Regions from separate parts of the Homo sapiens genome. Here region 1 is linked to region 2. Evidence: fine-mapped expression QTL. Tissue or cell type: whole blood. Region 2 holds a variant in brackets; the other region holds the start of a gene. All regions are shown on one strand. Distances are from middle to middle.

What was found. PIP is the estimated chance that this variant, and not a neighbour inherited with it, causes the effect.
Region 1: it holds the start of COLQ, and the variant in region 2 is fine-mapped to the expression of COLQ in whole blood (TOPMed, PIP 0.98).

The regions. Positions count from the first base shown.
Region 1 is chr3:15,519,197-15,523,427 of GRCh38, reverse strand. COLQ (collagen like tail subunit of asymmetric acetylcholinesterase) reads left to right here and starts at 1,722. Exons shown (of 17, transcript NM_005677.4): 1 at 1,722-1,908. The coding sequence starts at 1,803.
Region 2 is chr3:15,449,384-15,453,612 of GRCh38, reverse strand. COLQ (collagen like tail subunit of asymmetric acetylcholinesterase) reads left to right here. Exons shown (of 17, transcript NM_005677.4): 17 at 1,900-3,480. The coding sequence ends at 1,969. Among named protein-coding and RNA genes, the nearest start is that of EAF1, 24 kb to the right of the region's middle. The variant A/T (reference allele first, on the strand shown) is at 2,334.

The sequences.
Region 1 (4,231 bases), 70 kb before region 2:
TATCAGTTAGCTATTGCTGATGAGCAAGTCATCCTAAAACTTACTGGTTTGAAACAATAGCCGTTTTATTTGCTCATGACTTCGTAATCTGGGCTGGGCAGTTCTTTCGAGGGTCTCACTTGGGGTCACTCCTGTGGCTGGCATCATCTGAGACCAGGACAGGGCTAGATGTTCCAAAATGGCCTCACTCGCCTGTTGATGCTGCATCTGGGATAGTCAGAACAGCTGGAGGCTGGCTGCTTCCCCCTCCATGTGGCCTCTTCAATAGTCCAGACTTTTTAAAGTGGCAGCTGATTTTCAAGAAAAGGCAAAAGCAGGAGCTGCCAGGCCTTTTAAGGCCTAGGCCAGGAGATGGCACAGTGTCCCTTTAGCCACATTCTATTGGTCAAAGTAAGTCACAGAGCCACCTCAGATTTAAGGGAGGGGAACTAGCCCTGCTTTTTGCTGGGAAGAGTGTCATGCACACACTGGGTTGGGAGGACTTTTGGAGGCCATCTTTGCACCCAGGCTACCATGGCTCCCTTGGGTCTCCTTTGTGCTGTTCCTATGTGCAAGTTCTAATCCGTGTAGGATTCATCCCCATTACCTCACTTAACTTTCCAACAAACCTTTAAAGGGAACATTGTCTCCATTGTATGGATGAGAAAACTGAGGCTTAGAGAGGTGAGCTTGTCCACTGCCACTCAGAGCTGAGAGTCAAGCCCAAGTGTGGTGCTACAGCTGTAAAATATCACTTTATACCACGCCCTGACCCAACTCCACCTTCCCCATAATGAGCACAGGGGCAGGATGCCCACCCCAGCATCCAGTAACTAGCAGACTGTTTCTGAGTTAACTCCTATGAGGCATGTAATATGTAAATTAAAGCAAAATGAACAACTCTGTGAATTATTATTTTGTTTTAGTCATCTAATCATCTCTATAACAGGCTTTTATAAACTCATAAAAGGTATTAAGAATGTGATAATTTTTATTTGAATAATTTTGTCTAGCCAAAGATTAAGTTAGTGATGTTATTTTTCTGAATATAGTTTGATAAAAATCATTCACTTTTCTATACTTTTACTGTTTTCATTTATTTTGCCTTGCATTGAATCAAAAGGTTGCAGCTTTTGGAGAGAGAAACACTTTTTCACAGAGAAAGCTGTTTGGAAATATAAACTACTTCCTTCCTCCTTTTTATTGGATGATTAAAGAAAAAAATTAAAAGTTAACTTTACATTTGTTACACAATGGGTAAAAATGTCACAGGCTGACAGTGGAGGGGTTTTTCTCCATGAAATTCAGTTTGAATCAGGAGAGTTGTTTCTGCCCAGTTCCAAGGAGGTAGATGGTGGCACATAACCAATTAGGAATCTCTCTGCCCTTGAGGACTGCCTCCAGTGAACATCTGAGACTTGGCTGCCTTCTCATCACCTCTTCACTAGCCACTTACCTCAGTCTCCAAAAAAGAAAATTTTGACATCTTAATTTTAATGTGGGCATTTGATATGGAGCTTGAGATAAATATAACTCTCTGTAGCATGGAGACAGTTTAATGGGAAATGGTTGGCATTCTTTCTTGGTAAAGGCATGGGAGACAGGAGAGGTGGGGGAGGGAGAGAGAGGGAGGGGGTGAGGAGGAGGGAGAGGGAAAGAGAAAGAGGGAAAGACACACACACACACAGACACACACACACACGCACACACACACACACAAACACACGCGCACGCAAACAGCAGTGAGGAAGAGAAAAGCAGAGATAAGCAAGGCTCCGCAGCAGCCTCCTTTCTAACTTGACCCTCGCCAGACCCTGGCCAGCATGGTTGTCCTGAATCCAATGACTTTGGGAATTTATCTTCAGCTTTTCTTCCTCTCTATCGTGTCTCAGCCGACTTTCATCAACAGCGTTCTTCCAATCTCAGCAGGTAAATGATGGCCACAACTTTCCTCTCTTCCATCTGTCAGGGGACAGGGGGAGGAAGGAAGATTGTTTTGCAATGTGTCCTGATGTTTTTGCCATTCAACTGTTGGTGGAGGGAGGTTGGAAGGAAGACGGCCACCCCAGCAGCTTCCTGTCACCCGAGCTTGTCTCGGAAGCCCCTTCTGTCCTTGTTCCAACCGGCTCCTACCTGGCTGCTCAAAGCAGAGACACTTTGAAAAATGGTTTCTGCCTCCCCTATTCTCCCCATTTGCTGCATGATTTCATCTTGGTCAGGAATTTGGGAGAGCTTAAAAGAGACAGAGGTGTGCAAGTAATAGAGAAGTGAGTCTCAGATGTTTCTATAAATACATCTCTGACCTCTTCGAAGGGGGCTTGCCTCACAGGGGCTGTTGTGGAGTAAACAAACCTCTTTCCAGACCCAGATAGCATCCATGGCCACAATAGTCCCTCGAAGGGAAAATGCAGGTGGCAGGGGCCGGTGGGGTGGGGGGTGAACAGCGGCGGGGCAGTTGCAGCCTCAGGACTAGGTTTTCCCTTTCTCCAGACCTGTCTTCCTGGGTGCGACTTCCCTTCAGCCTCAGACAAGGCAGCTGGAGGTCCTGAGAGAAGTGAGCTTTCCAGGGAGAAGTGGAGGGGGTTCCACAGTGACAGCCAGGTCTGGAGCTGAGTGTGTCTGCCGGGTATGAGGCTGGGAGATTTGGGGAAGGGGCTGTGTCTGCCAGCCTGCAACCTTTTCTGAGGTCAGCAGCCTGTTGCCCTTGTCTTGTCTGACCCAGAGCAGGGGAAGTATTCGGTTACTAGTATGGCCTATTTAAACCTTTCTGAGGAAACTCAAATGTTTCCGGAGGGCTTGAAGGAGGCAGGCAGACCCTCACAGCCCCCCTCAATTCACCTCAGTGACCCCTGACTCTCCCCAGCAAAGTTTTAGTTATGCCTCCAACATGAGTCTCATAAATACTTCAACTGAGACAGAAATTTCACTATCGCTGCCTTTGCTGGAAACACAGGGAGGGCCAGAAATGCCAGGCTCTCAGAGAGGGCACATCTCTGAATCCAGCTCCCAACTGCTGTCCATTGATAAAAACAGCTCATCAGCAAGTTGTGTAGCCAACGTTTGTGGGCCATGAGGGAGTGACTCAGAGACTGGTGTGAGGCTAATTATAAAAGTGTGAGAAACAGAAGGAGGTGGGGGCAGATTTGTGGAGAATTCAGGAGGGTGGGCAGGAAAGGTGAGTGGTGGTGTCACCGTGGGTGTGTGCCCACATGCCCCTGCAAATTCAAGTTAAGAGCATCAAGCTTCTTCTAGGAGTGAGTAGTCATTATTCATTCCCCAGTTCAAGGGAGAAGCTTGAGAGTTAATTTGGCCTAATTTGGTGGTTCTTAATCATGTTTGGGTCATGGATTCCTTTGAGAATCTGCTGAAGGTTAGGACTTAAGGAAACTCAGTTTTCTGGTTCTAGCCCTGCCTCTGATGAGCTCCCTGACTTCTGAGAGACAGTGGCCTTACACTATAAGCACCATGTGGCCAGGGCATGTGTCTCTCTTGTACTTTACTGTTTTCCCAGGGTCAGAACAGTGCCTGGCACATAGTAATCAATAAATATTTGATGAATGAATGAATAAAAGCTTCTCATCTGCAAACTGGGGTTTACCATCATTTTGTATTACTTAATTTAAATAGCACCAAAGTGGTTAAGGAGTTCAGAAAACTAGAGAGAAAAGAACCTCTGGTTTTCTTTTGAACTCTTTGCCTTGGAGAGCACCCTGGCACAACATAGATATCTCTTAGGTAAGCTTTTTGCAGACTGTACCAATCAGGGCAACAGCAGGATAAAGAAGCAACTCAGGTGGTTCAGATGAAAAGATCTGAATGAAGGGATCACTTTGAGAGGTGTGGGCGGGGTTAAGGGAACCAACAAGGAATGCTGAGGCACCTAGAGATTAGCAACTGCAATATGCCTTTACCACCCTGTGCTTGAAAAGGCAAGAGGGGCAAATAGGAAAATGGATCCCAGGCAGATTTGGAGCCTTAGAGAAGGGGCCATTAAGCAAGAGCATTGGTCATGGAAGGCCCTAAAGCAGGGAGAAAGTGAAGGAGAAGTACACCATCTTCTCTCTCCTCCCATCCAAGCACCTTTTGGCAGCGCCTCTCATTGGCCAACCCAACTTGAAGCCAGAGGGCAGAGCCTGGAGGTCAGGGACTGGAACACTGAGGGCAGAGAGCCAAGGGGAGGGTTGGGATGGAGAACAACCAGTGCGCACATCCACAGGCACTTCTGGCTGGGAATGTGGTCATTAGACATTAG
Region 2 (4,229 bases):
CCCACAGCCACCTGCTCCATCCAAGGCCCAGAGGGGAGCTGCGGTCTCTGAGCTCAGCTGCTGCCCTGCATGAGCAGCCCCCAAACCCAGTGGTCACCATGACTACATAGTCTCCTGGGCTGTGGGCCTAGGTGGGAAGCCCAGTGGAGAGTAAAGGTCTCAGGGCATTTCCAAGAATCGACATGTCTACCTAACCTGACTTCCCTGGAACACCCTGCCCATCCCTCAGGCATGCCTGTGACTGCAAGTGAGATCAAATCAGCCTTAATATCTAATTTTGCAAGCTCATGGCCCCTCCAAGAAAATACTCCCTCCAAGGACCCCTCTAGTTATTTCTGAGAGTCCTCAGTGGCTATTTATGTTGTTCAGGACAAGTATTCTAGTGTCCTGGCTCCACACTGGCGCCTGCCAAGCCAACTGAGGGCCACCGCCCCATGAGGTGCTGATTCCATGCCCAGATTGTAACCACTGGGCTCCTTCCAAGGTGCAGAAGGTACATGTCTCCCCAGTCCTTACAGAACCAGAGTTGTACAACGTTCTCAGGAAAATGGGGAGGCCGTTCCTTTTTACCTAGGCCATGCCCTGCTCTTCACTGGGTTCCAGAGTGGATCTACTGGTGCTTCCGATCTCTTCTGTCCTTGAGTCCAGTCCCTTCAGCTTTTGCTCCCATCCCATTTTCTCTTGTAGACTCGGACCTGGGCCCTTGGCAGGGCTGGGGAGCCATGCCTGTCTCTCCATTGCCTTCTCTGTGCTCTCTCTTCCAAGGGGGTCTCCCTAACACTCAGATATTAGCATGTTCAACCAGGCTGGGAGAACTACAGACCTGTAGTCTCCCCCAGTCTCCCCCAGACTCTAAGCCCATTTAGGCTTGGCCAGGACCCCACTCCATGTATGTGTCTGTGTGCAGTGCCCCTCTCCCTGAAGGAAGGAAGACCCCTGACAGGCCTCTGCCAGAGAGTTGGCTCTTCATGGCTCCACAGAGACAAATCAATGTAGACGATCAGATATGGAGTACAGGATCGAGTAGAGCCCAGGGCTCCCCCACGCTCACTGTGGTTACACAGCTATTCCCCAGAAGCCTCAGAGGGACGCCTGTGACTGTGCCTGTAAGGTTTAACGCCCTGTCTCGGATGATCATCCGGGCCTACAGAGGTATAAACTGCACTGTCCAATATGGTAGCCCCCATTCACAGGCTGCTGTTCAAATGTAAAGTCATTATAAGTAAACTTAAAATGCAGTTACTCAGGCCAGGCACTGTGACTCACGCCTGTAATTCCAGAACTTTGGGAGGCCAAGGCGGGCAGGTCACCTGAGGTTCAGAGTTCGGCACCACCCTGGCCAACATGGTGAAATCCCACCTCTACTAAAAATACAAAAATTAGCTGAGCTTGGTGGCACGTGCCTGTAATCCCAGGTACTCAGGAAGCTGAGGCAGGACAATCGCTTGAACCTGGGAGGCAGAGGCTGCAGTGAGCCGAGATCACACCACTGCACTCCAGCCTGGGGGACAGAGCGAAACTCTGTCTCAAAAAAAAAAAAAAAATGCAGTTATTCAGTCACAGTAACTACATTTCAAGAGCTCAATAGCCACATCTGGCCAGTGGCTTCACAGATACAGGACATTTTTGTTGGTAGGCTGCATCGTAGCAAGGGGGATTCCCTCACAGATGCTGTGCTAAGAGCAGGGCAACCACCTCCTTCCACCCAGGCCCCGAGCTAGACCTCAAGGCAAAAATCCCAGAGACATGATTCAACTCCCCCAGGCCTCTCACTCCAAATGAGAATGGGAAAAAGTTCTTGTAGAGCCATTGGCCCTTGGCCGCTGTTTGATAAGGTTTGACCGGAAGTCACCAGCATATAAGAGGTGGCCTTTTAGAACGTGTCTTTGCCTCCCTCAGGTCATATGGAGACCTGCAATGCACCCAGTACTGCTACATCGACTCCACGCCCTGCCGCTACTTCACCTGAGGGCCGTGAGGAGAAGGTGGGCTGCGCCCCACAGAACTGGCAGCAGCTTCTCCACTGTCATCAAACTGGCCATGTCCTGGCCCCGTCTCCACCAACCTTTGTGTGACAAAAACAAGGACAAATTCCTGCTACTAAGACATGCTGTTAACTCAGTCTGACTGGAAGAATTTAGGACCACTGCATCCTGTCTTAATCCAAGGTACTGGAAAACCTTCCACATGCCCAACCTGAGACCTGTTCCCCATCGCTACCATTTGGCCAAACAACCGGCTACAATGCTCTTCCTCTTCTGGAATGTTGCTGACCCAGGCCGTGGACTTGGCTGAGCACTGTTAGACACACACAGACCTGCAGGCTGTTTTAG[A/T]ATGTTTTGATCTCTTTGGGGAATCTGGAGTACAGGCCTCTCCGCCCCTGACCACCGAAACGTGCAGGCATTCTCACTCACACTGGGCAGCCCGCTGTCGGGTCTCTCTAGGCCTATGAACCACAAAGCAGGGAAGTGGGCACGTTCTCTCGGGGTGGCTCACAGCTTTGAACCTGCCAAAGGACCCCTCGACTGGCCACAGCCCAGCCCAGCCTGACGTGGATGTGGCTGCCCAGGAAAAGACTTAACTGTGAAAAAGTACTGAGAACCCACCTGACCCAGGCTTGCCCCAAGCAGAGGCTAGAGAAGAGGCTCCTCTTCTCAGTGTTTCCCAAAGGGGCGGCTCTTGTGGTTTCAAAATCTCTGGCACCATCTTGACCTCTTGGCTCTCTCTGCACTTTGCCCCCTGTCTCAAAAATGTCCCTCATGTCCATTTCCTGTCCAGGAGACTCATGAGGACTGTGTGACCTGCACAAGCCCACACCTGGGCAGGCTGTTGGTGTCTCCTTGGTCCTTAGGCAGATACTCCCCTGAGTCCCCGATCTAGGGCCAGCTGCAGAGGGCTCTCTCTAGGCAGAGCGTTCCTGGCCAGAGCTCTACCTCTTTGCCTCCTGCTGACCCCTGACAGCGTCCCGTGGCATTTCTTTCATGTCTGCATATTGCATAGCCTTGTCCTCCTGTGTGCCTGAGCTCCTCCCTTTTCAATAAGATTATTAGTCGTGCATGTCTGTGAGCTGCCTTTCATCACCATTTTTCCTGAGTAGGGCTTAGTTTTATTCTGGAAAGACATCTCCAAGGTGAGGTCCACCCCCACAGCAGACCTCAAGTAGAAATTGCCCAATTTTTACCAGCTGGAGGGACACCCTTGGGTTTTTGTACGAAGCTATTTAATGAGCCTGTGTCTTGGGGACTCAGCAGGCTGGAGCTTGGGGCCTGGTGGACCATCACCTGGTGTCTGTAGGTGGACCCGGTCTCCCACAGGTGACATCAACCTGAGGGTGGCGTCTTTAGAGACAGGCACATGGGCAGCCCTGTTCCCTTCGCCTCTACTGCGAGGCCTGGGGAGATGTTGTTTTCATGCTGCTTCCACCATCACACTGGGGTTTCTGGATGGGAAATAAAAAAATAAAGGCAGTTCATTTCCCCACTGTGGCTCTCTCTTCCGTTGGTGGTGGGGGTGGGGCCGGTGTCTCAGCATTGCCAGATGGAGGGAGGAGTCTAAATTCAAATCTGCTTCCCAAACTCTGTGGAGGGTTCTACAATGTGGAAGCATTCCAGTTCCCTCAGGCACAAGGGAGGAAACAGATCCAGAGATGTCATGGACTTGCCCAAGGTCAAAAAACCCAGTCTTGCTAGGCCAGCCCTGTCCTCAGCCCTAGTTTTAGGACCTTGTTTAGGATGGAATGGAGGTCTAGTACTACTCCTGGATCTGGCCAAGAGAGGCCCTGTCCTGGGTCCCAAGGCTGGAGGGCCCTACCCTGGCCCTCCTCTGGCCATTACCCTCCCCACAGGGTGAGGTCTCTATGTGGCCAAAGTAACATACCCGCTGGAGCTTGCAAGCCCCACTCCTAGACCATGCTCCAGGTACCTGGGAAACCACAGTTCCCCACCCAAGTGGTCTTGAGCCTGCTTCCTAGACCTGCAGGCCTCTTGCCCATGTCTGTCCTCCTGAGTGTGACCTGAAACACATGCAGGCCTGGGGGTGGCCAGCAAAAAGTTGTTTGTAGGAATTATAGATGGGGCTTGGAATGTGGGCTGGGATTTCCTCATGGACACACATGAAGCCCTTCTTAGTGTGGGATGGGCCAGGGGTAAAAACAGAAGGGGATCTGGCAAGGGGCTGGACCCTCCTCTCCTCTTGCTACCACAGGACTTTGTGGAATCTAAAATTCCAAA